4 linked regions of the Homo sapiens genome follow. The protein of the gene in region 4 purifies or fractionates together with the protein of the main gene of each other region. This does not show direct contact. Each region holds a gene or a part of one and is shown on either strand. Other genes may lie near its edges. The genes, in order: BMPR2, NOTCH2, ACVR2B and LRRIQ1.

Region 1 (7,693 bases), on a different chromosome or scaffold from region 4:
CCTCTATGGAAAAGGGGAATGATAATAACCTACAACATAGAATTGTCATGAAGACGAAATGAAAAAATATATGTAAAGTTATTTGAATAGCTGATGGTGCATGGCAGGCACTTAATAAATACTAGCTATTATCATTACTGTTACAGGTCTGAAATCCAGCTTCACAAATTTTGTCATCTGGTGCTATGCAATACCAAAGAAAAAAAAGACTACAACCACTTTTAAGCAGTGATTCTTTTACTCTCTCCCTTTTAAGAGACACTATTCTAAGATGATTGTATTACCAAACAAAAATTAAGTTTATTTTTAAATAAATGCTTTTTCTCTTACTTTTATCAGTTCTGATCACAATATTATGAGCACGTCATCATAAATGAGAATCTATATTCTAAAAAGGTTAAGAATAACAAATAACATTGAAAAGCCTATGTTCTGAGATTTCTGCTCATGGAACGTTTAAGGCCTTTTACTCCATATTTTACAGGAACCACATGGCTTATGGCTAGAGAATTTAAATAGCTAACACAATATAAAGAAATTTAGAGAAAAATCATTTTTACTCTGAAAGCAACTACAATTATTAAAAATATTAAAATATCAGTTTTAAAGTAAACTCAGAAGTTCAAATTATTTTAACAGAACCATATAGATTTATCATCAATTTAACAGACATTAATCAACAGTAGACATTATTCAACAATAGCAAAAGCATAAAAGGAAACTTCAAATTTTCTTCGGCATTTTCCTAGATCAGACTTTCAAAATGAAAATAAGCAAGTAACCTCTGTATCTAACATAGCAATGAGAAATTTGTTTAATGTGAAACACACTTATCAAAAGAAAAAAAGTAATTCGAAAGGGTCATTTGGTCCTTTACTCGTTTTAAAAGCACAATCCATTTGCCCATCATAAACCAAGTGTACGAGTTATATGTAGAATTCACTCCTGAAAATTTCTAAAAGCAAATCACCAAAAGGCTGCTTGAAAAAATAGTTGCAAATAGAAGATAAGGTCTTTTTCCTAAGGTTTCTGAGAACTGAAATGAAAATATCCAAAGGAAAGGATGACTACCACCCTTTAGACTTTAGTGAAATGTCAAAGAACTTTCGGAGTCAAATCTCCTAGAAGTCTAATGTCAGGTCAAAGTTGTCTCGACAGCAAAGCCAATAGATAGATGCCAGATGACTAACAGTAAAGTTATCAAACCGTATAATACAATATATCAAGAATCTCACAGTTCTGGCTTCCTCAACATTTATTCTATTCATTCGGTAACATTTCTGAATAATGAAAGGAACATGGATTCCCAGAGTGATCTAAATTTCAAAATAAGGTTCAAGTGTGTGTTCTCTAGTTGATGTTCTTTTTACTATAAGCCAAAACCGCTTCTTTATAATAATAATTTTAAAAATCTACAGGTCTGTTTCCAGAGATCTCATAATAAGCACTGTTCACTGGTGATTAAAATATTATTTTTAATCGTTGCATTACCTCACAGCTAAAAATGTCAAGATACCACACCCAATATGTCTTTTTCACCCCGTAAAGGGGGGTGGGGTGGGAATATGGAAGTGGGGATAGGAAAATACACAAGAATATTAAAGGCGATTTCCCTGGAAGGCATGGGGCAGGCGCGCAGGCACCGGGTCGCAGCTCCGCTGCACCGCGATCGGGGGGACGCATGGCGAAGGGCAAGCACAGGCCTCGGCCTCTGCGGGCTCCCTCCCTCGCCACCCGCAGGGGCAGTGGCCGGGACGTGCCGGCCGGAGCTACTCACCAGCCGCAGTGCTGACCAGCAGGATGGTCCATGGTAGCCAGGGCACCCGCCAGGGCCGCTGCAGCGAGGAAGTCATCCCTGGGCCAGCCAAGAATCAGGAGGGCAAAGAAAAGAAATATGGGAAGTAGACCGGCGGAGAAACAGCCGGGAGGCTCGTCTTCTCTCCCGTGGACTGATCCTGCCCGTATCACAATACAGTTTGAAAGGACAAATGGCTGATGAGAGGACCTAGCTGCAGAGCTTTCATGCCGCTGCAGAAATTCCCTTCATTTCTCTCCCTCGCGGCTGGGGGGGTTCCTTCGCCTCGGACGGGGTGCCGCGGCCCTCCAAACGGAAGGCATGTCTGTGGGGAAAGCAGGGAGCCAAGAAGAAATCCCCCAAATTATTTCCCTCGTAGTTTCACGATATCAAAAAAATATCCAGGTCTGGGAGAAAACATATCCAGGGTGCGGAGGGCGGGGATTCGATCCGGGGTCGGGGGGCGAGGGTCAGAACTAGTTCCCGACTGCCGGGAAGGACGAAGCCGGACGGGCGGCGGCGGCGCCCGGCAGCCCTAGTCGCATCGCCCGCGGCTCCGGGAAGGCAGGATTCCTTAAGTTTCGCTTCGGTGCTTCCTTCACTCTGATTTCGAAAACAACAAATCCTCTTCCTTGACTGGATCAAAAAAGGTGCCTGCCTCCATGGACAAGCTCACAGTCCCCACGCCTTCGCAGAACAACCGTGAGAGGGTTGGGGAGGCCCTGGCGAAGGCTGAGGAGAGGTAGGAGCGGGGGAGGGGAGGGGTCGCGGTCGCGGCCCCGGTCCGGGCTCCCCGAGACGGCAGGCGGAGTGGGTGTGAGAGGCTGCCCCTTCTAGTCCTCCCGGCGGCGCTCCCTTCCCTTCCTCGCTTTTTATTCCTGCGGCTCGATCTTGCCTGAGGTAAATTCCACCAAGAAAGCCTCCTCTTCTCCCGTCAATGGCTCCTGTGAGCGAATCACAACCCCCCGAGGAAGCCGCTGCTGCTGCCGCCGCCGCCGCCGCCGCCGCCGCCGCCGCCGCCTCGTTCTCCCGCAGCTCTGGGCTCCTGACGGAACTCGGGCGTCGCGGACCGAGGGCGGGGGGCGGCGGGAGGGCGGATGAAGGTAGCCGGGGAAGGGGGTGGGCAGGGAGGCGGCGAGACACCCTGCGTCCCTCCGGGAGGCACTTCCAGTGGCTCCGAGCAGACCAGACACAAAGGGGGGAGTCGCCGCAGCTGCCAGTCTGCGGCGCTCCCGGTCACCGGAGTCGCCCCGCCTCCGCCGCCGCCTCCGCCTCCTCCTCAGTCTCCGGCTCTTCCCGGCCCTGTCTGTCTCTAGCCTGTGGTGCAGAGCGGGCGGCGGCGGCGGCGGCGCCGGCGGCGGGATGAAGCCCGCACTGCGCCTGCGCGCTCACGGCCCCGCCCGGCCCCGCCCCTCGTTCGGGGCTGGCTGAGGGCTCCGAGGCCCCACCGCAGCGCGTCTCTCCGGTGAATGGCCGAGGGCTGGGTGGGGCTGCGGTGGGCAGCGGTGGCCTTTCTCCTTCACACACATACACATGCCTTCCAAATGTGCATGGCTTGGGATTCGCGTATTTGTTTAAGAGACGACGGCCACATCCTTTTGTTCGGCGTTCAGCAGACTCCTCCGAGTTCCGGGATTTCTCCCGACTGAGGCGTCTCCGTCTCAGTACTCTCGGAGGAAAGCCTCGAGGGGCAGAACTGCCCTCTGTTGTTTCACGGGGCTGGAACCTCCCTCTCCGCAGCCCAAAGAATCCGGATGGACCCGCCTTTCCCAGAACCGGAGACCTTGGCCTCCTCAGGCTCCCCTCTGACTCAAACAAAAGCCGGAATTGGAAAGACCACCCCTTTGATGTGTTCGCTGTAATCGACGTCCTGCTTTCCTCAACCGCCCATTCCCTTAGCCTTCTTAGTTGACAGGAATATTGAGTATTTGCAAGGATGCGAAGCCAGAAAAAAAAAAAAGACTTTTAATTCTATAAATCGTCCCGCTGCGTGCGCGCGTCTGTCCGTACAGCGCGGTGCCCACCCCGAGAGAGGGCCTGGATTCACCAAGGCTGGGGGCCTTGAGGGCTTTTTAGGGCACGTGAAAGGAAAATGGAGTTAGAGTTGTGTCGGGATAGAGAGTGGGATCATTTTGCACTCAAGGAATTGAGAAGATCCCGTTGGTACCGCAGTTTCCAAGGATTTGTGTAGTGCGTTTTTTGGATCTGGTTTGTACAAGCGACCAGTATAGGAGACGGGATCCCTCCCGCCCTTACACCCCGCTGCGGGGTCAGCCGACGTGGGTGGGATTTTGCTGGCGGCGAGGGGAGAAGGTGACGTGCGTGGCGCCATGATCGGAAGTCTGGACTGAATTCTTAGCTGCGAGGTGGAAAATGCGCGTGGGAGGGCGATCTTGAGGGGTGAAGTCTGGCCTTCCCATCTCCTACCAGGCAGGAGGGTTATGCTGAAGGCTGGTTTTGCTGGTCTTTCATTGTGGCTAAGGGCAGTTCCACAGATACAGTCATAGATAGACTCCTTAAGTCATGCTCTGCTTGCTTCTTCTAGTCCGCTGTTACCTCTTTATCTGAATTTGATGTAAATAAATCTCCACATTCCTTAAACTGGTTCTGTTATACTAAACATCTTCCATAATTAGGGGTTGTAGCAATACCAACCCCGGATTCTAAGACTCTTTTTAGTTGAAATATGTTTATGCTGTTTACCCTTTAGACAGAGAAAAAAAAATTCTACCTAGTAAAATCCCTTAAAAAGACGAAGAGCATATGCTTTGATTCATTAGCTTTATTTATTTAGGTTTTATTTATTTATTTATTTATTTATTGAGGCGGAGTCTTGCTCTGTCGACCAGGCTGCGGTGCAGTGGCGCGATCTCGACTCACTGCAACCTCCACCTCCCAGGTTCAAGCAATTCTCCGGCCTGAACCTCCCGAGTAGCTGAGATTACAGGCGGCGCCATCACGCCCGGCTAATTTTTGTATTTTTAGTGGAGACAGGGTTTCACCATGTTTGCCAGGCTGGTCTCGAACTCCTGACCTCACGTGATCCGCCCGTCTCGACCTCCCAAAGTGCTGGGATTACAGACGTGAGCCACCGCCCCCGACCGATTCTTTATAGCTTTATTACTGTATTTTGTTTTGCCCAAAAGGTCTAAATTAGAAACGGTATTGTTTTACCATTTGTCTTTCAAGAACTGAGAGTTTCTAGCACTCAGAGAAATTGGATTTTAGTATGTTAGAGGTGCAGAAAGTTTAAAGTTTATTAATTCGTAGTACACTTTTATCTTCCTCAAATTGAGATCAAGTACTTCATCATTCAATTTTTATTTGCTTAAGATTTTTTCCAAGAAACATTAAGTGTCCTTTTTGTAGTTCCCCCTTATCCACCGTTTCAGTTACCTGCAGTCAACCACGGTCTGAAAATATTACATGGAAAGTTCCAGAAATAATAAGTGGTGTTTTTTTTTGTTGTTGTTGTTTTTGTTTTTTTTGAGACGTAGTTTCTCTTTTGTTGCCCAAGCTGGAGCACAATGGCACGATCTCAGCTCACAGCAACCTCCGCCTCCCAGACTCAAGCGATTCTCCTGCCTCAGCCCCCTGAGTAGCTGGGATTACAGGCATGCGCCACCACACCCGGCTAGTTTTGTATTTTTAGTAGAGATGGAGTTTCACCATGTTGGTCAGCCTGGTCTCGAACTCCTGACCTCAGGTGATCCGCCCTTCTGGCCTCCCAAAATGATAGGATTAGAGGCGTGAGCCACTGCGCCTGGCCTCATAAATTTTAAATTGAGTACTGTTACTAACTAGCTGTGAGGAAATCGCTGCCATCCCACACTGTCCTTCTGGGATGTGAATCATGGTTTGTACAGTGTATCCGCTATAACCTCCTTAATCACTTAGTAGCAGTCTCTTATCAGACTGACTGTGGCAGTATGCAATATCCAAGTGCTTGTGTTCAACTAACCCTCGTTTTACTTAATAATGGCCCCAAAGCACAAGAGTAGTGATGCTGGCAATTCAGCCATACAGAAGCTGTAAAGTGCTTCCTGTAAGTTAAAACGTCAGAGTTCTTGCCTGTAATCTCAGCACTTTGGGAGGCCGAGGCAGGCAGATCACAAGGTCAGGATGATCGAGACCATCCTGGCTAACACGGTGAAACCCTGTCTCTACTGAAAATACAAAAAAATTAGCCAGGCGTGGTGGCAGGCGCCTGTAGTCCCAGCCACTCGGGAGGCTGAGGCAGTGAATGAATGGCATGAACCCGGGAGGTGGGGCTTGCAGTGAGCCGAGATCATGCCACTGGACTCCAGCCTGGGCGACAGAGCAAGACTCTGTCTCAAAAAAAAAAAAAAAAAAAAAAAAAAAAAAAAAAAAAAAGTCAGAGTTCTTGACTTAATAAGGAGGGAAAAAAATTATAGGCTGAGGTTGCTAAGATTGCTGGTAACAATGAATCTTTGGCAGGGTGCAGTGGCTCACGTCTGTAATCCCAGCACTTTGGGGGACCAAGGCAGGAGGATCACTTGAGGTCAAGAGTTCAAGACCTGCCTGGCCAACATGGTGAAACCCCGTCTATACCAAAAATACAAAAATTAGCTGGGAGTGGTGGCACGTGCCTGTAATCCCAGCAGCTACTCCGGAGGCTGAAGCAAGAGAATCACTTGAACGCAGGAGGTGGAGGTTGCCCATTGCACTCTAGCCCGGGCGATAGAGACTCTGGCAAAAAAAAAAAAAAAAATCTATCTGTGAAACTGAATTGTGAAGAAAAAATAAATTCATGCTAGTTTTGCTGCCATACCTCAAACTGCAAAAGTGATGGCCACAATGTGTAATAAGTGCTTAGTTAAGATGGAAAAGGCATTAAATTTGTGGGTAGAAGACATAATAGAAATGTATTCCAGTTTATAGCAATTGGGTTCAGTACTGTCTGCAGTTTCAGGCATCCACTGGAGGTCTTGGAACAAGTTCCTTGTGGATAAGGGGCAGGGAGGACTACCGTACATGTTATAAATGTATGATAAATTATATAGAACATAAAGAAAAGGTCTTAGGAAATTCACAAGAAAAAACACATGCCGCTGACTTGGTAGGTAGACAACTAGATATGTACCCTCTTCCCTTTTCTGTTCCTTCTTGTGATATTTCAGTTGGGACATGGCTGTTCACTCACAGTGAGAAAGAACATCAAAGAACAGAATTAAGACTTGGCAAGAAACCTGTCCACGACAAAAGGCAGACAATGTAAGTCAAGCTCAGCTGAGAACAAAGGACTGGTGATGCAGGTGAGGTTTGGCATCTGTACTAATTAGGATGGGCTAAATTACAGTAACATTCACCAAATCTCAGCATCTTATTGCAATAAAGGTTTATTTCTCACACATGTTACATGTTTGATATAAGTCATCAGGGGACCCATCGCAACTTGAGTTCACAGGAAATAGACACTGAAACTCTGAAATTTGTATGCAGGAGGTTATTACCTAATGATGGCAAGAGCAACCTCTGTGGGGATTGAGGGATGCAAGACTGGGCAGAGGGAGAAGTTGAATTGCAACACATTTGCAACTGAGGCATCAATCAATCCTGCAGGAATTCTGGAGCTGGGCTGGCCTTTCAGCATTGTCCTAATCTGTGTCTGCTAACACTTTAAGGTACACCTAAAAGACCCCCCAAACCCAGCAAGCTTTTCATTCAAGATTCCTTCAGTGGAGTACATCTAGGGAAAAAGTCCCTCAAGTATACTGATAATTTAGGCTCCTTGAATGCTGCCTTGGAGTAGGAAATCCAGCATTAGACAGACTGCCTAGCCAAGTTGGGTAAAACCAGTAAATTTTTTTTTTTTTTTAAAGACGGAGTTTCGCTCTTGTAGCCCAGGCTGGAGTGCATTGGCACGATCTTGGCTCA
Region 2 (7,025 bases), on a different chromosome or scaffold from region 4:
ATAGAGCTGTTTCAACCATAGGGTTAACTACCTTCTCCTTCTTGAGTACTTTATGGAATTTTCCATTCCTACAGATGGCTGCACCCCATTGATGTTGGCTTCTCTCCGAGGAGGCAGCTCAGATTTGAGTGATGAAGATGAAGATGCAGAGGACTCTTCTGCTAACATCATCACAGACTTGGTCTACCAGGGTGCCAGCCTCCAGGCCCAGACAGACCGGACTGGTGAGATGGCCCTGCACCTTGCAGCCCGCTACTCACGGGCTGATGCTGCCAAGCGTCTCCTGGATGCAGGTGCAGATGCCAATGCCCAGGACAACATGGGCCGCTGTCCACTCCATGCTGCAGTGGCAGCTGATGCCCAAGGTGTCTTCCAGGTAAAGAACATGAGAAGAGTCACTTGAATAATAATTCCTATGGCTCTATAATGTTTTATCGTTTTTAAAGAATTAATATCTCATTGAATTTATTCAATCATTTGAGAGATTAGGGCAGGTATTAGAGTCATGCTTGGTAGATGGGAAAGTGGGAAAAGGGAGGCAGGCAAATTGACCTAGCTATATATAGGAAGATAGTGATAGAGCCAACTGCAGACAACACCAGTCTTTCTGATTATTAGTGATAATTTGTTGTGCCAAGATGCCTCCCAAATGCGTAGATTAGATGAGAGTGATAGCTGGTCCGGAGCCTTTGACTAGTATCCGCTACTTCTTATGGATTGGCCTGACTGTATGGGCTTCTAGCTGCTCATTGGCAGTTTTCTTGACCTGAGTTCATATTATATTCCCTGATGCCTGTTTATCCTTATGAGGAAATTGGAAGCATTCTGAATCACCTTAGGCTGTATCCTGACTGAAGTTGTGATATTTCCCCACATCCCTCTTCTTTCCTGAGAAAGTAGAAGGCTCATCACTTTACATCAGCCATTATTTATTGAGCATGTATTTATTTATTCATGCAACAAATATTTATTGATTGATCATGATAGAATCTTGGGCACAAAGATAACAAGACTTTCCCTCTCCTCCAGGAATCTACACTGTAGCCTCAGCTCTGATGCCCTTGTTTCTTCACTGAGTTTCATTATTTTCCTTCATCCAGGTGACTCTCTTTTCTGTACTTTCTCCTCTTCTAGATTCTGATTCGCAACCGAGTAACTGATCTAGATGCCAGGATGAATGATGGTACTACACCCCTGATCCTGGCTGCCCGCCTGGCTGTGGAGGGAATGGTGGCAGAACTGATCAACTGCCAAGCGGATGTGAATGCAGTGGATGACCATGGTAGGGATGAAAGGCAGGGATTTGGATTCTTACCTGCAAAGCATGCCTCTGACGAGGGGAATAGAGTTACGTGACCCTTAGAGAACTGCCTGAGATCCAAATACGTGAGAGATTCACTCATTCTTTCATTCATGCATTTATTTAACATGCTGAGCTCAGAGATCCAAGCCAGTAGGAGATCCCTAATTAAAATGAGGGATTTTTAATGAGGGTTCTTGGACCTCAGAGCAGATACATGAAAGGTGTTCCCATGTAGTTTCCTAGGCATAACACTTGATTTGAGGATTTATGAGAGCTGACTTCTCTAGGAGAGTTGTAGAATATTCTCAATATAAATTCTGACATGTAATATATAGGTTTTTATCTTCAGTATGTAACAGGGTAGATTCTGCCATGTAGGGGACATGAATGCCTCATACAAGTGATCCTTTCACCTAGAGGTCTTCTGCAGGCTAGGCAGCCTGTACTGAAGTATTTCTAGAACAGAGGAAAAAGAAGAGATTACTTTGGTTTTTCCTATAGACCCCTACAGAGAACTGCTTCCTGCTGATCTCTGGGGAGTTTAAGATTTCATTGTGCAAGTCATAGTGTCTTATACTAAGAGTAGGATATGTCTGTTTATAAAAATGTTTCTCCCCTGCAGGAAAATCTGCTCTTCACTGGGCAGCTGCTGTCAATAATGTGGAGGCAACTCTTTTGTTGTTGAAAAATGGGGCCAACCGAGACATGCAGGACAACAAGGTACAGTTTGTGGGCTCTGAGCTTGAGGAGGCTCATAGCAGTGCCTCAGTTATAAGCCCATTCCCGTTTCTCCTTACAGCTTCTCTTGTTATATGTATAGACAAAGATGGAAGCAGTTTGGGCAGACACTGGGTTTCGAGAGCTTGATGAGGATATTGGGCTTGTCCAGGCATGTGTCAGGATGGAGTTCTCTGCCCTCTCAGTACTCAGCTTGCAGTAGGCTGGCTATAGATAGCTTGGTGTAACTCTTTCTCTTCCCTGACATTTCCTTTTCTCCAGTTGTCTCTTCTGTTCATAATCACTTCTTTTTCTCGTTTTCTTTCTTTTTTCCCTCCGGCTGCTTTTTTTTCTGTCCTTGGATACCCTGATGTTTTCCTGTTTGATTTTTCTCCATCTGAGTTTTTTGTCCTGCTTCCTTCTCTCATTCATCTTCTCTCAGTTTTCTTTGTTTTCCTTATCTTAGTCCTTTCTTGCACATGTTTTGTCTCTTCTTTCACTGTTTCCCTTACTTTTCCCAGTTCTGTGCATGCCTTAGTTTTTTCTCTTCCTACCTTTCTTATTTCTAACTCCTTTTCCTATTATTTCTTATTTCTAACTCCTATTCCTACCTTTCTTATTTCTAACTCCTTTTCCTTAACCTTATTTTGATAAGCTCAGTACTCTTTTAAGTGAGTCTCTGGCTCAGGGGCATGCTTTATTTTATGAATTCCCAACTAAAGAGATGTTCCCCCTAAGGGGCAAAATTGTTTTTTTGAGGAGAGGTGAAATAATCTTACTTTTTTTATGTGTAAATCACAGATACACATTCAGTACATTGGTAGAGGCACAGCCTATCTGTGGTGTTAATATTTCATCGGGGAGATAATTAGGAAAACATGTCTAAGGGGGTGATAATAAAAAAGATTGAGAAAAACTGCTATATTCTCAAGAGTGTTATTAACATGTGTTCTGTGATGGGCCTTTTCTGTAGGAAGAGACACCTCTGTTTCTTGCTGCCCGGGAGGGGAGCTATGAAGCAGCCAAGATCCTGTTAGACCATTTTGCCAATCGAGACATCACAGACCATATGGATCGTCTTCCCCGGGATGTGGCTCGGGATCGCATGCACCATGACATTGTGCGCCTTCTGGATGAATACAATGTGACCCCAAGCCCTCCAGGCACCGTGTTGACTTCTGCTCTCTCACCTGTCATCTGTGGGCCCAACAGATCTTTCCTCAGCCTGAAGCACACCCCAATGGGCAAGAAGTCTAGACGGCCCAGTGCCAAGAGTACCATGCCTACTAGCCTCCCTAACCTTGCCAAGGAGGCAAAGGATGCCAAGGGTAGTAGGAGGAAGAAGTCTCTGAGTGAGAAGGTCCAACTGTCTGAGAGTTCAGTAACTTTATCCCCTGTTGATTCCCTAGAATCTCCTCACACGTATGTTTCCGACACCACATCCTCTCCAATGATTACATCCCCTGGGATCTTACAGGCCTCACCCAACCCTATGTTGGCCACTGCCGCCCCTCCTGCCCCAGTCCATGCCCAGCATGCACTATCTTTTTCTAACCTTCATGAAATGCAGCCTTTGGCACATGGGGCCAGCACTGTGCTTCCCTCAGTGAGCCAGTTGCTATCCCACCACCACATTGTGTCTCCAGGCAGTGGCAGTGCTGGAAGCTTGAGTAGGCTCCATCCAGTCCCAGTCCCAGCAGATTGGATGAACCGCATGGAGGTGAATGAGACCCAGTACAATGAGATGTTTGGTATGGTCCTGGCTCCAGCTGAGGGCACCCATCCTGGCATAGCTCCCCAGAGCAGGCCACCTGAAGGGAAGCACATAACCACCCCTCGGGAGCCCTTGCCCCCCATTGTGACTTTCCAGCTCATCCCTAAAGGCAGTATTGCCCAACCAGCGGGGGCTCCCCAGCCTCAGTCCACCTGCCCTCCAGCTGTTGCGGGCCCCCTGCCCACCATGTACCAGATTCCAGAAATGGCCCGTTTGCCCAGTGTGGCTTTCCCCACTGCCATGATGCCCCAGCAGGACGGGCAGGTAGCTCAGACCATTCTCCCAGCCTATCATCCTTTCCCAGCCTCTGTGGGCAAGTACCCCACACCCCCTTCACAGCACAGTTATGCTTCCTCAAATGCTGCTGAGCGAACACCCAGTCACAGTGGTCACCTCCAGGGTGAGCATCCCTACCTGACACCATCCCCAGAGTCTCCTGACCAGTGGTCAAGTTCATCACCCCACTCTGCTTCTGACTGGTCAGATGTGACCACCAGCCCTACCCCTGGGGGTGCTGGAGGAGGTCAGCGGGGACCTGGGACACACATGTCTGAGCCACCACACAACAACATGCAGGTTTATGCGTGAGAGAGTCCACCTCCAGTGTAGAGACATAACTGACTTTTGTAAATGCTGCTGAGGAACAAATGAAGGTCATCCGGGAGAGAAATGAAGAAATCTCTGGAGCCAGCTTCTAGAGGTAGGAAAGAGAAGATGTTCTTATTCAGATAATGCAAGAGAAGCAATTCGTCAGTTTCACTGGGTATCTGCAAGGCTTATTGATTATTCTAATCTAATAAGACAAGTTTGTGGAAATGCAAGATGAATACAAGCCTTGGGTCCATGTTTACTCTCTTCTATTTGGAGAATAAGATGGATGCTTATTGAAGCCCAGACATTCTTGCAGCTTGGACTGCATTTTAAGCCCTGCAGGCTTCTGCCATATCCATGAGAAGATTCTACACTAGCGTCCTGTTGGGAATTATGCCCTGGAATTCTGCCTGAATTGACCTACGCATCTCCTCCTCCTTGGACATTCTTTTGTCTTCATTTGGTGCTTTTGGTTTTGCACCTCTCCGTGATTGTAGCCCTACCAGCATGTTATAGGGCAAGACCTTTGTGCTTTTGATCATTCTGGCCCATGAAAGCAACTTTGGTCTCCTTTCCCCTCCTGTCTTCCCGGTATCCCTTGGAGTCTCACAAGGTTTACTTTGGTATGGTTCTCAGCACAAACCTTTCAAGTATGTTGTTTCTTTGGAAAATGGACATACTGTATTGTGTTCTCCTGCATATATCATTCCTGGAGAGAGAAGGGGAGAAGAATACTTTTCTTCAACAAATTTTGGGGGCAGGAGATCCCTTCAAGAGGCTGCACCTTAATTTTTCTTGTCTGTGTGCAGGTCTTCATATAAACTTTACCAGGAAGAAGGGTGTGAGTTTGTTGTTTTTCTGTGTATGGGCCTGGTCAGTGTAAAGTTTTATCCTTGATAGTCTAGTTACTATGACCCTCCCCACTTTTTTAAAACCAGAAAAAGGTTTGGAATGTTGGAATGACCAAGAGACAAGTTAACTCGTGCAAGAGCCAGTTACCCACCCACAGGTCCCCCTACTTCCTGCCAAGCATTCCATTGACTGCCTGTATGGAACACATTTGTCCCAGATCTGAGCATTCTAGGCCTGTTTCACTCACTCACCCAGCATATGAAACTAGTCTTAACTGTTGAGCCTTTCCTTTCATATCCACAGAAGACACTGTCTCAAATGTTGTACCCTTGCCATTTAGGACTGAACTTTCCTTAGCCCAAGGGACCCAGTGACAGTTGTCTTCCGTTTGTCAGATGATCAGTCTCTACTGATTATCTTGCTGCTTAAAGGCCTGCTCACCAATCTTTCTTTCACACCGTGTGGTCCGTGTTACTGGTATACCCAGTATGTTCTCACTGAAGACATGGACTTTATATGTTCAAGTGCAGGAATTGGAAAGTTGGACTTGTTTTCTATGATCCAAAACAGCCCTATAAGAAGGTTGGAAAAGGAGGAACTATATAGCAGCCTTTGCTATTTTCTGCTACCATTTCTTTTCCTCTGAAGCGGCCATGACATTCCCTTTGGCAACTAACGTAGAAACTCAACAGAACATTTTCCTTTCCTAGAGTCACCTTTTAGATGATAATGGACAACTATAGACTTGCTCATTGTTCAGACTGATTGCCCCTCACCTGAATCCACTCTCTGTATTCATGCTCTTGGCAATTTCTTTGACTTTCTTTTAAGGGCAGAAGCATTTTAGTTAATTGTAGATAAAGAATAGTTTTCTTCCTCTTCTCCTTGGGCCAGTTAATAATTGGTCCATGGCTACACTGCAACTTCCGTCCAGTGCTGTGATGCCCATGACACCTGCAAAATAAGTTCTGCCTGGGCATTTTGTAGATATTAACAGGTGAATTCCCGACTCTTTTGGTTTGAATGACAGTTCTCATTCCTTCTATGGCTGCAAGTATGCATCAGTGCTTCCCACTTACCTGATTTGTCTGTCGGTGGCCCCATATGGAAACCCTGCGTGTCTGTTGGCATAATAGTTTACAAATGGTTTTTTCAGTCCTATCCAAATTTATTGAACCAACAAAAATAATTACTTCTGCCCTGAGATAAGCAGATTAAGTTTGTTCATTCTCTGCTTTATTCTCTCCATGTGGCAACATTCTGTCAGCCTCTTTCATAGTGTGCAAACATTTTATCATTCTAAATGGTGACTCTCTGCCCTTGGACCCATTTATTATTCACAGATGGGGAGAACCTATCTGCATGGACCTCTGTGGACCACAGCGTACCTGCCCCTTTCTGCCCTCCTGCTCCAGCCCCACTTCTGAAAGTATCAGCTACTGATCCAGCCACTGGATATTTTATATCCTCCCTTTTCCTTAAGCACAATGTCAGACCAAATTGCTTGTTTCTTTTTCTTGGACTACTTTAATTTGGATCCTTTGGGTTTGGAGAAAGGGAATGTGAAAGCTGTCATTACAGACAACAGGTTTCAGTGATGAGGAGGACAACACTGCCTTTCAAACTTTTTACTGATCTCTTAGATTTTAAGAACTCTTGAATTGTGTGGTATCTAATAAAAGGGAAGGTAAGATGGATAATCACTTTCTCATTTGGGTTCTGAATTGGAGACTCAGTTTTTATGAGACACATCTTTTATGCCATGTATAGATCCTCCCCTGCTATTTT
Region 3 (7,025 bases), on a different chromosome or scaffold from region 4:
CAAGAGAGAAGAATCACTGGAAACGAATCCTGACAGCACCTTCATCTTTAACTTCCAGTCCCCAGAATTGTAAGAAAAGAAATTTCAGTTGTTTAAGCCACCCAATCTATGGTATTCCATTATGGCAACCTGAGCAGACTAAGACACAAACAGCGCACATCATATGTATAATGTGGGAAAGCTGATTGGAGTATCATTTGTACTAGAAACAGTTCCACAAACTTGAGTGTCATCTAAATCCATTAGCAGGGCCTGACAAGTGGACTTACATAAAGAATCCCAACATAACAGTAAAGAGTAGGCAGCAAGCTGAAGAACAAGACTGGGAAGCAACAGCTTTGGTGAACAAGTCATCCCAAACTATCTTCCCTAAGTCTTCTGCCAACTGTGGCAGAGACTTATACAGGGAACAAGGCATACACTCAGCCAGGAACAGAAACTCACCAGAGCTCCTTCTGTCATGAAAAGCTTCTCACCAGACTCTAAAATAGTTTTTCTACAGGTTTCTCCAATACCCCCAACGTCATTATCACGACATATGAAATCAGAATTTGTCACACTCAGATTTTGTCAAATGCAGTGGGCTTGCCAGTAGTGCTGTTACCCAGAGCTCTTCAGCGACCTTCAACAAGTGCCTTAGTCTCTTCAGAGTCTGCACGCAGCATAGAGCCTGGTAAGTGAACATACATATGCACTTCCATCCCAAACCCAGACCAGCACATCCTGGCTAGTCCAGTGCTACCTCCCTCATCAGCACAGTACCCAGGAGACTCAGGCACAAGGTAGGAGACACAGGCACGAGAGGTTATCTCCAGGTCTCCTCATACATTAAGCCAGTGGAAGTGAGCCCTTCCCATGTCCGCGCACCCTTCATGAAACCAGGCTATTTCTAAACTCTGTAACCTAGCATTTCAGCAGGGGTTGGGGTGTGGAGGTAGGAAGGATGTTCACAGATTACCGCAGAGAGCCAACTGCCATATCACCCAGCTTCTACCCTCACTGCCATCACTTGGGTAGCCTCAAAAAATAAATAAATAAAATGGTATAACCATTTTTCAGTATCTATTAAAACCAATAACATACGTGCTTATGATCCAGATGTTATTTTCTCATCTACTCTTGAGAAACAGTCTGCATACATTCTATACAATCACAAAGTCCATCAGTAAGAAACTAGGTAAAATGTAGTCTATATTTAAACTTTAGAATATTACGTAGTTATTAAAAAGATCAAAGTAGATCCATATGTATCAGAAAGTTTGCCAAAGCAAATCTCCGAGTTTAAAAAGCCATGACATCCAACATAGCTTAAAGTCACAAACATGGTGAGGAAAAGATGGACACAAAGCAGTTTATTCTGTAAGGTTCTATTCATATGAAGCACAGAAACAGATGAAACTATTTTATGCTGTTAGAAGTTAGAATAGTAGTTAACCTTAGTGGGTGTGGGCAGAGACTGAAATGGAACAAAACAGGGCTTGCTGGGGATGGGGGGCTGGAAAATTTCTGATTCTTGACTTGGATGCTGACTAAACCAGTGTATTCAATTTGTGAAAATGCTTCTTAGCTGTTACTTATGGTAATTACTTGTACATTCTTCTGTATATGTTTTATACTTCAATTAAATGCTTGAATACCATTTTAGGTGGAAAAAAGCCTATTTATTTATTTATTTATTTGTTTGTTTATTTATTTATTTATTTTGAGATGGAGTCTCGCTCTGTTGCCCAGGCTGGAGTGCAGTGGTGCTATCTTGGCTCACTGCAAGCTCCGCCTCCCGGGTTCACGCCATTCTCCTGCCTCAGCCTCTTGAGTAGCTGGGACTACAGGGACCCACCACCACGCCGGGCTAATTTTTTGTATTTTTAGTAGAGACGGGGTTTCTCCATGTTGGTCAGGCTGGTCTTGAACTCCTGACCTCAGGTGATCCGCCCACCTTGGCCTCCCAAAGTGCTGGGATTACAGGCATGAGCCACCACGCCCGGCCAAAAGCCTCTCTATTTCTATAAGTATTTCTATAGATGCACAAGTAAAAATGTCTGGAAGAATACATCTCAATCTTAAAAGGATTACCTTTGGAGGGGGCCTCGGATGGGGAACAGAAGTGATAAAAGGAGACCCTAGTATTATCTGTAACATCTAAATTTCTGCAATATAATGTAGGTATATTACTTGTTTAAAAAGTAATAAATTTTTTTTAAATGGGAAAATTAGTTATGGGGGAAGTGACTTCTACTCCCCCAACTATACCCCAGGGTGGCTAACCTCTCAGTGATGGGAGGTTTGGATGCGAGGTTTCAGGGCAGGGGAGATAGGACTACATTGCCCTGGCCCTCCTTCTACTCCCACACAGCCCTGTAGGTCTCACCCTCAGCCAGAAGGTTCACAGAAGGAGCCAGCCAGGTGGGAAAAGAAACCAGAATTCATCTCTCTAACCCTTCTGCTCCTCTGGTTTCTAAGGCCCAGAGCAGATGAGCCTTGATTCACTATGCCCTCACTACACAGAGAAGCGGGACCTCTTGTGTGAGCCCTGGGCCACAGGACTCCCCTCTAACCCAATATCAAACCTCAGTGAGAAGGAAATTCCCAAAAAGTGCATAAAATAAGAGTTCTTAAACCATGGTTGCCAGCCCAGGCTGGGAAAACTCATGCATGCTTTCTAAATCAACGGACACATAATCCAGTTGGAGGGGAGGGGGAGGAGGGTTGTCAATGGCACTGGACATTCATTAAAAGGCATTGTCCTCATACCTGAAAACACTGTGCGCCACTGCACAAGCCAGAAGGAAAAAATATCCTGGCATCAACACTCGAGAGAGTCAGCTTCCAAGTTAGTCTCCTGTTTTAATTGGTTCAAGTCTGGGAGGCCACAGGGACCCCTCCTTCTCCTCAGATGGACGGATAACAGCTGGTCTCATCCCATCCTCCGAAATGCTCAGGCACAAACCTGGGAAGCAGCCTCCTCCATTCTCCAGCCAAGGGCTTGGGTTTCCAACCAGCCTTCCTTTTCCTTCTCCAGAACTAATTTTAGCCTCCTTGGTTGTCAGAGTGGAACTGAAATAGTCGGCAGAGGAACACATGCAAAGAGCATGAGCTCGCCTCACAAAACACCTCAGCTCCAGCCCAGAAACTGGCCAGGGAGAAGGCCCATTGTCCAGCAGGTCAGACCCATCCAGACAACATTCCCCTGGGAAGAGGGCCTCACATTTGCCCAGTGGGACAGGCTTCCTTTCCACACCCGCTTCCAGAGGTCATGCGTCCATGAATGAAAACACCCAGTTGGAGCTGCCAGTCCCAGAAAGAATCTGAAAAAGGCACATGCATGTGTACAGCAAGCCTAGAATAACCAGGGGAAAGCATGGGGCTGTCCGAAGGCGGGAAGCCATTATTGGTCCTGGGCCGGGAAGAGACATGGCTGACCCTTGAACAATCCCAGCCTGCTTTATCCATTGATTTCCAGTACCTACCACTGCCTTAGTCAGAGACATCACTGAGCAATGTAATAGAGTCAGAAGAAGGCAGCAGCATTTCCACCACCAGAAAACCTGGGCATTCAGTAGCAGTACCCCCAGGACCACAAGGAATAGGCACCTCTAGGGCTGGGATGGACCCGTAAGTCTGGTAGAGAATGAGAGACCAAAAAAGAAAGCCCAGAACAAGGGGGTGGGTGTCTGTTTTGGAACACAGAATTAGTGATAGAACCGGAGGGAAGGAAGAGAAAGAATTCTGAGAAGGAAATAAAGTCCCCTTTGTAAAGACCCCAAAAACAGATGGAACTAGGAAGTCTGAACCTCAGCAAGCACTTCACATACCAGTGATGTGGAGCACTTGGAAACTGGGTCTTTGAAAAATGCTTCCTCCACCCTAAGAGTCCAGTTTGTAATCACTTCCCAGTGCAGCAAACTGTGTCTCACTGAGTTCAAGATGAGACAGACAGAGTCCCACAGAAGCGTTCCCTAGCCAAGCTTGAAGCAGGCCAGGGGAGGAGTAGAAAATAAACATGGGGGCAGCCACAGGGGGCTGCCAGCCTGCCAAGCCCAATAGACAAGCCTCCACAGATACCAACCGCTCCACCAGGGCCTCCAGTGTCGGCTGCCTGTCTAAGGCAGCGCTGCCCACACCTCCCCAGGTCCACAGCAGGAAGCCTGGCCCTGCCCTCAGATTCCCATCTGGCCACCACACCCTGAGGGAGAGACTTGCACCCATACCTTTGGGGAGAGGCTGCCCACCTGCCCTGGTGTCCCCGGCCTGGGGGCTCCAGGCCCACAGCCTCTGCGGCTCCCCGGAGCGCCACATGGCAGGTCCACTCAGGGGAAGGGGCATGCCCACGGCCTGCTACAACCCCAGTGCTCCGCTTGGCAGACAGGGCTAGCCTTAGCTCCTGAGGCCCCCAGGTGAGCAGAGAGGGGCTGCTGGGCAGGCAGAGAGTCCCCAGCAACAGGCACTTCCTGGCATTTCTGCGTGTACGGGAGGAAGAGGCTGAGTGCCAGCCTTAAGGCAACGGTCAGAGGCGAGTGGGCGGGTGCGGGCAGGCAGGCTGCCCAGCCACCCACAGCCTCCGCCTCCCTGAAACCTGAACCACTTCTGGGAAAACTCAAGGACGCCAGGATTCTCCTCGGTGGTAAGCTGTACACCAGAACCACTAATTTTGAACCAAACTCTCACGTGCTGAGCAGATTTCACTAAGCAGGAATCTCCTAGGCTTTGAGGAGAACCTCACCTCCAACCCTGCATCCAGAGTGGGGGGATGGATATGCACTCAAAAGCCGTTACCCCTACTTCTTACAACTGTAGACCTCTTTGAAAGCGTGAGAACATTCTAGATCAGTGGTTCCCAATCTGAGATGATTTTGCTCTCACCTCTGCCAGGGACATTTAGCAAGATCTGGAAACATTTTTGGTTGACATGATTAAAGAGGATCTACTGGAATTTGTGGGTAGAGGCGGGGATACTGCTAAATATCCTACAATGCACAGAACAGCTCAACCCACCACTACCCATACACAACAGAGTATCATCAGGCCCAAAATGTAATAGTGTCAAGGTTGAGAAACCCTGTTCTACAGTGAGGCCCATGCAACCAGGACCCTGCCTCAGGACTATCTAGAGTCTATCTACAGTCACTAGCAAAAATATTATCCAGACCCAGTCCTCAACCCTCCAGATCCCAATCCATGGTGACAGGTCAGTATCCGTGAGTGGATCTAAACTCCTGAACCGATACTCCTTGGTTCTCATTTGCACTACCCTGAGCTCCCAAGCAGAGGGGCTGAATGCATAGGCTGGCACTCAAGAGGACAGCTTTCTGGAAAGAGAGACCAGGGCTAGAATCTGAACATCCGGCAGGATCACAAAAGGCAAAGTAAGTGAGGTACCAAGGTGGAAAAAGCACCCCTCCCCCGCAGAACAAGCTGCCCCTTAAGACTACTACAGTGGATATGTGCAGGGCAGCCAGGACTTCAAGGAGTCTAATCAGGGGGCAGTAGGTTCCCAGTATCTGTACAAAACAGAGTGGGTGCATACAATGTACACACACATGCACACATATACCGATTTACATTTTCCTGGAGGAAGGGTCCACAGCTTTCATCAGATTCTCAGAGGGGTCTATGACATGGAGGACCACTGTATAGAATGTGGGCTCTTCATTGGCTCCTTATAACAGGAGTTCCTTAGGTGAAGTGCCAGCAGAGGTCCAGGTGCTTCTGGAGATTCTTGATGCCCAGAAAGACCCACAGAGTAGTACACAGTAGAGGCCCACCCAAGTGATGGGAGGCCATAGGGTTTAGATCTTATGTTTTTACCCAGCTATAGGGCCTGGAAAGATGGGCAGGTTTCTCACATCATCTGCCTTGAAAGGGCCCCTAAGAGCTAGGGAGGATACCCATTCCTCCCAAAAGGCAGCCCACCCAGACAGGGCAGAGCCTCGAGTGCCCAGCAGATACAAGGACAGGTAGCAGAAAACACTCTTCTCTGGGAGGGGCACCCACGGCCCATGGCTCTGTAGCCCATGTCCTTGGCAGCTACCGCTACACTAGGCCTGAGGGATGAAAGTCACTTCACTTCATGAGCTCACTCCCTCCGCCCTCCCCCAAGGAAGTGGCCAAGAAACTTCTTTGGGTCAGCCTATCAGAGTAATCAGGGCCTGCACTTCCTGATGGGATAGACAGGAGGCAGGTCCCTCTCCAAGAGCTCTGGTCACTTCACTTAGAATACTGTTTACCCCACCCCCATAAGCCCTTTGATCTGAACCCCAAGTACAGAGTACAGAGACAGGTGTCAGGAGTTCTTGTAGGATACAGCATTGAGTGTCCAGGATGTCCACTGAAATGCAAGAGCCAAATGGCTTGTTTCCCAAGGACACTCGGCCAAGCACAGACCACAAAAGACTTGAAGAATTATTAAAGAACCAACTAACCACTGACTGATCTTGTGACAAGCACCATGTGACATTTATTACACCATAAATTCTACCTTCCCTTCTGAGATTCCATTGTCTAATATGGTAGCCACTAACCAAATGTTCTGCAGAGCACTGGAAATGTGGAAAGTTAGAGTTGAGGATGTTCTGTAAGGCACACACTGGATTTTGATGACAGTACAAAAATGGAATGCAAAATGTCTCGTTTTAATACTGATCTCAGGCTGAAATTACTTTGTATATATCAAATTCAGTGAAATATACTTTTTTTTTGAGACGGAGCCTCACTCTGTCACCAGGCTGCAGTGCAGTGACATGATCTCGGCTCACTGCAACCTCTACCTCCCGGGTTCATGCCATTCCCCTGCCTCAGCCTCTGGCGCAGCTGGGACTACAGGCGTGTGCCACCACACCCAGCTAATTTTTGTATTTTTAGTAGAGACGCATTTCACCACGTTGGCCAGGATGGTCTCGATCTCTTGACCTCGTGATCCTCCCACCTCAGCCTCCCAAAGTGCTGGGATTACTGGCATGAGCCACTGTGCCAGGCCAGTAAAATATACTATTGAAGTTCATTCCATCTCATGGAAAGAATGTGTCCCC
Region 4 (7,025 bases):
AAAAATAAAAAATAAAAATATATTCATTACCCATAATTATTGCTCTTTAGTCTTCTCTTTTGAGATATTACTGCATATAACCCAATGGTCTAGTATTTTCAACTTTATAACTTTTTTGATGAAACGGGCTATTAAGCAGCCCTCGAAAACAATCCATTTGCCTTCTCTTTGCTTGCTTGAGACCCACATTTGACAAGTGGTATTAGAAGCCCTGGGCCATGTTCTTTACATACAGCATTTTAAAACTCAGTGATCCTATATAATAGATATTGCTGTTCCAGTTTGTGAAAGACAAAACTGAGGCTCATACAGGTCAAGCATTTGCATAAGGTGTCACAGCCATAAGTGGCAGAAATAAAATTAGAAACAGTCTTAACATAGAACTTAGTAGTCTAATAAGCTACACTTCAGTAATTTTACATTCATTTCCTCTTCAGTCAATATACTTTATCTAAACTGTGAAACTGGTAGTAATGAGGAGATAAGATTAACATTCAATTGCAGTTCTTTTTTTTAATTATACTTTAGGTTACATGTATACATGGGATACATGTGCAGAACATGCGGTTTTGTTATATAGGTATACACGTGCCACGTGCCATGGTGGTTTGCTGCACCCATCAACCCGTCCTCTACATTAAATATTTCGACTGGAATTCTTTATTCATCAATTGATTCATCCCCCCACTCATCCATCCTATAATCAGGTAATGAAAGTCATTACAGATAGTTCCTGACAAGAGATAGTTTAGCGTAGAATTTTTTTTAAATTTTATGATGGTGTGAGATCAATAGACATTTAGTTGAAACCATACTTCAAATTTTGAATTTTGATCTTTTCCCAAGCTAGCAATATAAAGTATGATCATTTCTCACAATGTCAGGCAACGGCAGGGAGCTGCATCTCCCAGTCAGTCACATGATCATGAGGGTAAACAACAAATACTCTACAGTGTACCACGTTGCCAGATGATTTTGCCCAGTTGTAAGCTATGTAGGTTTATCTGGATGTAACTTCATTGTAACTTGAGGAGTATCTTTATTTGCCTGGCAATGTGTAAAGAAGTATGAACAACACGAAGATCCGATTTATGTCTTGAAGTCTCAAAGTAAGAGATTAATGTAAGCAAAATGAATGCATTACTGGGAGACAATAAACTTTTCTAAGTTGATCTCCAGAAGGACATCCCAAGGATGGCAGTGAGTGATCAGGATAAGGATAAAGATCTGAAGCTAAAAGATCAGAAAGTCAAAAAGAAACTGAGCCATGGATCAGTAGTAACAGTGGTGAATAAAGACACCATGGTAAGCCATCTACCAAACAGAATCTTTACAGGAGTTGTCTGGTAACAAAAGATGATATTTTCTTAACATTTTAGCATCTATATGGCACATTCACATGTATTTTTCATCTTTATACTGCCTATTTGATGCTTCAAAGCTAAATTAAAAGCTTGAGATAGTTGCTTTAAGAAGGGATGAGAGGATTATGGTGCCCTTTAGAACACTGCTACTCAGATTAGTCCACTCACCAGCACCAACATCATCATTTAGAATCATTGCAAGAATGGAGAATGGGTGGATCACCAGACCTATTGAATCAGAATCCACATTTCTACAAAGCTTCAGGTATTCTATAGATTTTAATAGTTTGCCAGGCCTTGCTCTAAGAAGTAAAAGAAAGAGTTAATTATCATTTTATGTAAATTGACAAACGTTCGAAAGAAGGAACAGAGAGTCAGCTGGAGAAGAAATGCCAAGGAGAAAGAGGCTCACACATCTTAACTTCCTTCTCATTGGACAGAACAGAGACCTACAAAGCAAGGGAGGAACACTACTGTTTCTGTAACTTCATTTTCACTTTTGAAGCAAGTACACTGTAGGCATGAAGCCATCACTCTTGCCTAGCTTTAACAGATACTCATGAGGAAAACTAAATAATTGCTAATGTTATCATATTGGAAGGCCTGCAGCAATATGTTAGAGAAAGAAAAGTGCTAAAACATGATTCCAGAGATAACATGCGCAAGGAAAAAATTGGAGAAGAGCAGATGAGAGATTCTATATGTAGCTCTGCAGACCTGACAGATGTGGCAAATACATTACCCAGGAAATAAAAGACACTTAAAAGTGTATGTCCCAGTTCTCATCTCTTATATTGCTATTTCATATACCAGAAATATCTTCAAAATCCCACTATTTTATTATTCTCTCACAGGATACTCTGAAGCCTTATTTACAGCAATTCTCAAGATCCATAATAACGTATTTATGTGTGTTTAAGCTCCGTAAAAGACTGGGTTTTCTTTGTTTATTAGTCAACCAATAAATATTGATCATCTTATTGGATAGATGAATATTTGCTGAGTGAATAAACAAAATAATGTTTATCTATTAATATGATTGTTCTTTCTCCTAGGCATCTGTCTAGCAAGAAAGTCTATCAAGAAACTAAATAAACTTTATTGAATACTTTTGACTTTCAGGCCTTAGCTAAATATATGTATTTTAATCATAAGTGCTTTCTAGTGTTACACTGTTTAAAATATTATTTTCTCTTTTTCTATACGTTTATTAGTTTCTGTGTCTTAATTTTGGTTGAAACTATGTTCTCCATAACCATATAAAATTAGTAACATTTGATGACAACTATTTTACATTTCAGACATATATGCACCACCTTTAAATAGCACACGCTAAATAATTGTTGCTAGATGGGAATTCTAGGGTCTTCAGGGTCTTCTATCATGCAAGCCCTTCTTTCACAACAGTGGTCATGGACATAAAATCCACTTTATTCCAAAAGCAGCCACTAGGTGGTGTGGTGGCTCAAGTCTAAAGCAAACTTCTGTTTACTTAGGAGTTTCCTACTATAATTCTAACCCTAACTTTCTATATGCTTCCATTCTTAGAGGTTTAAATAATGACTGGAGGGCCCTTGAACACAGGCTTCAAGATATTAAAAAATATAAATCAAAGCTTTTTATAGAGTGTCACTTAGGGAAGATGCCTCGAACAATTTGTTGAGATATATCCCCTCCCAAATGGGGTAATATTTCATTCATAACTTTATTAAACAAGAGACAATTCTTGTATACAAAATATTTCTTTTTCTAAGATCTGAAAAGTTATACTTTAAAGAGCTAATTGTAATTAAATGTGAAAAATTATTATAAAATTAGAAATACCTGCTGTAAAGTATCCCAAGGGCCACATCGAAGAATTTCCAGTTTATCCAAAGCGGGTGTCATGTTGGCTGGGCATTTCACAGGTCTCTTTCTTCTAACAATTTTCTTTTGTTGATTTTGCTTGAAAATTTCAAGCCAAGGTTTAAATGATTTTATCCAGGCTAGTCTCCTTTCTTCAATAGAATATAGAAGGGTTGACTCTGATACACAGCAGGTCATGCTATCAGGTTCAGGTGCATTTTCATGGCATTTTTCTGAAATATTTCTAATCTCAGATTTAAGAGAGTTGACTTCTTTAGATACCATGGAGCTTTCTGCATTATAGTTACTCAAGCCCTCACAAGGAGCATGTCTACCTAACACATAATCTTGGTCATTTCTTTTGCCTTCTATATTTATCATGGTATCAGTTGTGTTAAAAATCACAATGCCACTATTCCAAGCATTGTCTTTTGGGTTCTCCTCAATTTCTTTGGATTTTGAATAAATTTCTTTTTCTTGTAATATTACGTTTTCTCTTACATCTTTGGAATTTTCTGATGTTAGTGAGAGTGATCTTTGTTTCACTGAAATAACTAAAGTATCCTTATCTTTATATAATAATCCATTCTGTTCTTGTATCTCTTCTTTTTCTACTTTTTGTATCTTTTTCTGCTGATTATCTTTGATTATTTTCTGCTCTTCATTGGTTTTCACCTCACTGATTTCTTGGTTATGTCCTAATATTATCTGGGTTTTTTGTCCTGTATTCTCATTTATGACATGTTTCATGATTTTTTCTTCTTTTTGTGCATCAGACTTTAATTCTTGCAATGGAAACTGTTCTTTCAGATTTCCTTTTAGATCAGAGTTTCCCAATTCAGTTTTGTTATCTGTATTTTCATATTTTCTTTCTTGCTTGACCAATTCTTCTGAACATCGTTTTTTTGCTAGGTTTTCATTTTTTTCTTCCATTTTAAAATCTGCCAGAATTGTTTGGCTTGATATAGATTCTTTTAACTTTACTTGTATTGATTCTTTTAATATAGTCTGTCTATCTACATTTTCTTTCATATTTGATTCCTCAACTAGCCAAAGGAGAACATCTTCCTGCTTCTTTGAATTTTCATCCACTAGATTTTTGGCTATATCACCCTTATCATTTGAAATATCTTCAAGACTTAAATGTTTGTTATTATATCCGCTCTTCTTTAATGCACTACTTATTATTAGCTGTTGGCTTGCATCTTCTCTTAATATTATTTTTTCCTTGCTTATTAGTTGCTCTCTTTCCTGTTTCACAATATTCTTTTTTTCTTCATATTCTTTTTCTCTCCTTTTCCTTTCCTCTTCCTTTTGCTTTTTTCTCTCTTCTTTTATCCTTTGTTCCTCCTCTAATCTTTTTCGATTTTCTTCCTCCTTTTGTCGTATTTTTGCTTCCTTTTCCTTCCACTCTTGTGCTTTCCTTTTCTTACTTTCAATTTGCTCTTTAATAATTGGGCCATATTTTTGATAGGCAACAAATGCTTTATATTTAGCTTGAATTTTAACAGCTGCATTATTCTGCTGTTTTAACAAAGAATTTTTTTCTTTTTCTTGTTGGTCTTTAAATCTTGTTCTTTCTTCTTCCATTTGTAAATGCAAGTTTCTAATATACTCCTAAAACAAAGTAAGATACATGGTAGTCAGCATAAACTAAACATGAGATGTTACTAAAATGTCATCTGAAATGTAGATTGAAAACAAATACTAAAACTGAAGTCTTAATAAAGTTTCTATAAAATTTATTTAGAGAAACTAAAGTCATTTATCTTAAAGGGTATTACTTTTTTAATATTTAGGAGATTGAATCATGTTAAGTTGATACTCTAATGTTACATGTATTCTAAGCCACCCAGATATGAATTGAAGATTTCCTTGAAGATAGAAAGCATATAAAATCAGAAAGACACAGAATAAGCAAGCAAACAACAACAACAACAAAAGGGAAACCACAGGCTAAAAACCACGTAAAAGAAAAGGACTTCAAACTTTCTGGAATGAGAGTTCTGATAAAGAAGACTCAGAGCTAGTATTGAGACTGCAAAAACAGGAATTATTTTGTGAAACTTATGGTACCAAGAAAGCCAGATAGTCCCTACATACAAACAATATACAGAACCAGCCTACTCACATATCTTATCCCTTCTCAATGATCAAAATAGTTGATAACCACATACTACTGCATTTAATGAAATATTTAGAGTTAGGTGAGAAAATATTATTTTTACTAGAGTCCTAAACCAAAAGTAAGAAGATCAACAAAATTGAGCAAATATCTAACGGAAACTAACAAAAAGGATATGAGACTATATTTTAATCAGCAGAAGGAAGAACCAATTTCTGAGAAAATCAAACTATTAAATAAACTAGATAAAAATTTAAATAAAGATATTTTAGAAAAAATATTTAAACAGGAATAACCTCATATTTCAAGTGTTCAAATAAAAACGACTCACTTAAACCAATAATCAAAATAGAATGGCTGGATAGCTGATTACTTAAAAAAAAACTTCAAAATGAGATGTTTTCCCCAAACAACAAATAATAACAAAGATAAAAATTATATGTCGGAGGTAAAGAAGATTAACACAGAAACTCCAACATATGACTAGTAGGAGTTCCTGAATAAAGAACTGAGAAAAACTGAAGGGAAGAAAATAATAGAAAAATACGTTTTCTTAAAAACAACAACAAAAAGCCATGGGAGAAAGACCGAACATTGCATGCACACATACACAACACACTTAGACAGATGCTAGCAATATTTCAGACCTCTGGGGAATGTAAGCTGTTAGTTTTACTGTGCTCCTTTTTAGGTGGTGTGTCTTTTTGCCTCTGGATGCTTCCAACACTATTTTTCCTTTGTCTTGAATTTGAATAGTACTATTTAATTCCAAGGTGTGATTTTCTTTGTATCTCTCCTCCTTGGAAATTGTGTATCGCATTTGAAAGTAGGGATTATTTTCAATTTTATGTACTGTCATATCTTAAACACTCAGAGAAGTGCCTGACCTAGTAGAAAACCAGTAAATATGTGTGGATGAATGTATAAAATGAAAAATCCTAAAGCTTCAAAAGAATGTAAGGAAAAGGCATCAAATTTGCAATCATAGATAGCACAGGCAAAAATAAATATGCAACAAAGTCATATCTTTACATTGTTAAGGGTGGTAATAAATCTGTATTCCACACCCGAAGAAACTGACCATTCATTTTTAAAAGCAAACTAAAAATATTTTCAATCCTGGGTAACACGGTGAAACCTTGTGTCTACTAACAATACAAAAAATTAGCTGGGCGCAGTGGCGGGCGCCTGTAGTCCCAGCTACTCGGGAGGCTGAGGCAGGAGAATGGCGTGAACCCAGGAGGCGGAGCTTGAAGTGAGCCGAGATGGCGCCACTGCACTCCAGCCTGGGCGACGGAGCGAGACTCCATCTTAAAAAACAAAAAACAAAACAAAATATTTTCAAATATGCAAACAAAGATTGAGAAAATCTAGCATCCAAAAATGTTTTTTGACAACTATTTAAGTGTATACTACAGGAAATTAAAAATTGAGTCCAGAAAATGGAGGAAGAGTCAGGATTCAAAGAACACTAATAAACAAAGAAACCATTATCATTGAATACTTACGTTTTTTGAATCGTCTTCTTTCTTCCATCATTTTACTTAAAGATGGCTATTTGTTTTACTGTTACTCCTTTTTAGGTAATGCGTCTTTTATCCTCCAGATGCTTCTAAGACTTTATTTTTCCTTTGTTTTGAATTTCAATAATTGTATTATTTATTCCAAGGTAGCATTTTCTTTGTATTTAT

The links.
Region 1: the proteins of LRRIQ1 (region 4) and BMPR2 purify together in Homo sapiens (affinity purification with mass spectrometry; 2 studies listed by BioGRID and IntAct, with this or other methods). This does not show direct contact.
Region 2: the proteins of LRRIQ1 (region 4) and NOTCH2 purify together in Homo sapiens (affinity purification with mass spectrometry; 2 studies listed by BioGRID and IntAct, with this or other methods). This does not show direct contact.
Region 3: the proteins of LRRIQ1 (region 4) and ACVR2B purify together in Homo sapiens (affinity purification with mass spectrometry; 2 studies listed by BioGRID and IntAct, with this or other methods). This does not show direct contact.

Annotation. Positions count from the first base shown.
Region 1 is NC_000002.12:202,371,635-202,379,327, reverse strand, and holds the start of BMPR2 (bone morphogenetic protein receptor type-2 precursor), read right to left. Parts: upstream 3,002-7,693; 5' UTR 1,854-3,001; coding exon 1,778-1,853; intron 1-1,777. UniProt on the Homo sapiens protein: On ligand binding, forms a receptor complex consisting of two type II and two type I transmembrane serine/threonine kinases.
Region 2 is NC_000001.11:119,912,663-119,919,687, reverse strand, and holds part of NOTCH2 (neurogenic locus notch homolog protein 2 isoform 1 preproprotein), read left to right. Parts: intron 1-74; coding exon 75-376; intron 377-1,134; coding exon 1,135-1,282; intron 1,283-1,925; coding exon 1,926-2,023; intron 2,024-2,993; coding exon 2,994-4,382; 3' UTR 4,383-7,025. UniProt on the Homo sapiens protein: Functions as a receptor for membrane-bound ligands Jagged-1 (JAG1), Jagged-2 (JAG2) and Delta-1 (DLL1) to regulate cell-fate determination.
Region 3 is NC_000003.12:38,456,873-38,463,897, reverse strand, and holds part of ACVR2B (activin receptor type-2B precursor), read right to left. Parts: intron 4,468-7,025; exon of another isoform or gene 4,324-4,467; coding exon of another isoform or gene 4,209-4,323; intron 1-4,208. UniProt on the Homo sapiens protein: Transmembrane serine/threonine kinase activin type-2 receptor forming an activin receptor complex with activin type-1 serine/threonine kinase receptors (ACVR1, ACVR1B or ACVR1c).
Region 4 is NC_000012.12:85,053,348-85,060,372, reverse strand, and holds part of LRRIQ1 (leucine-rich repeat- and IQ domain-containing protein 1), read right to left. Parts: intron 4,827-7,025; coding exon 3,189-4,826; intron 1-3,188.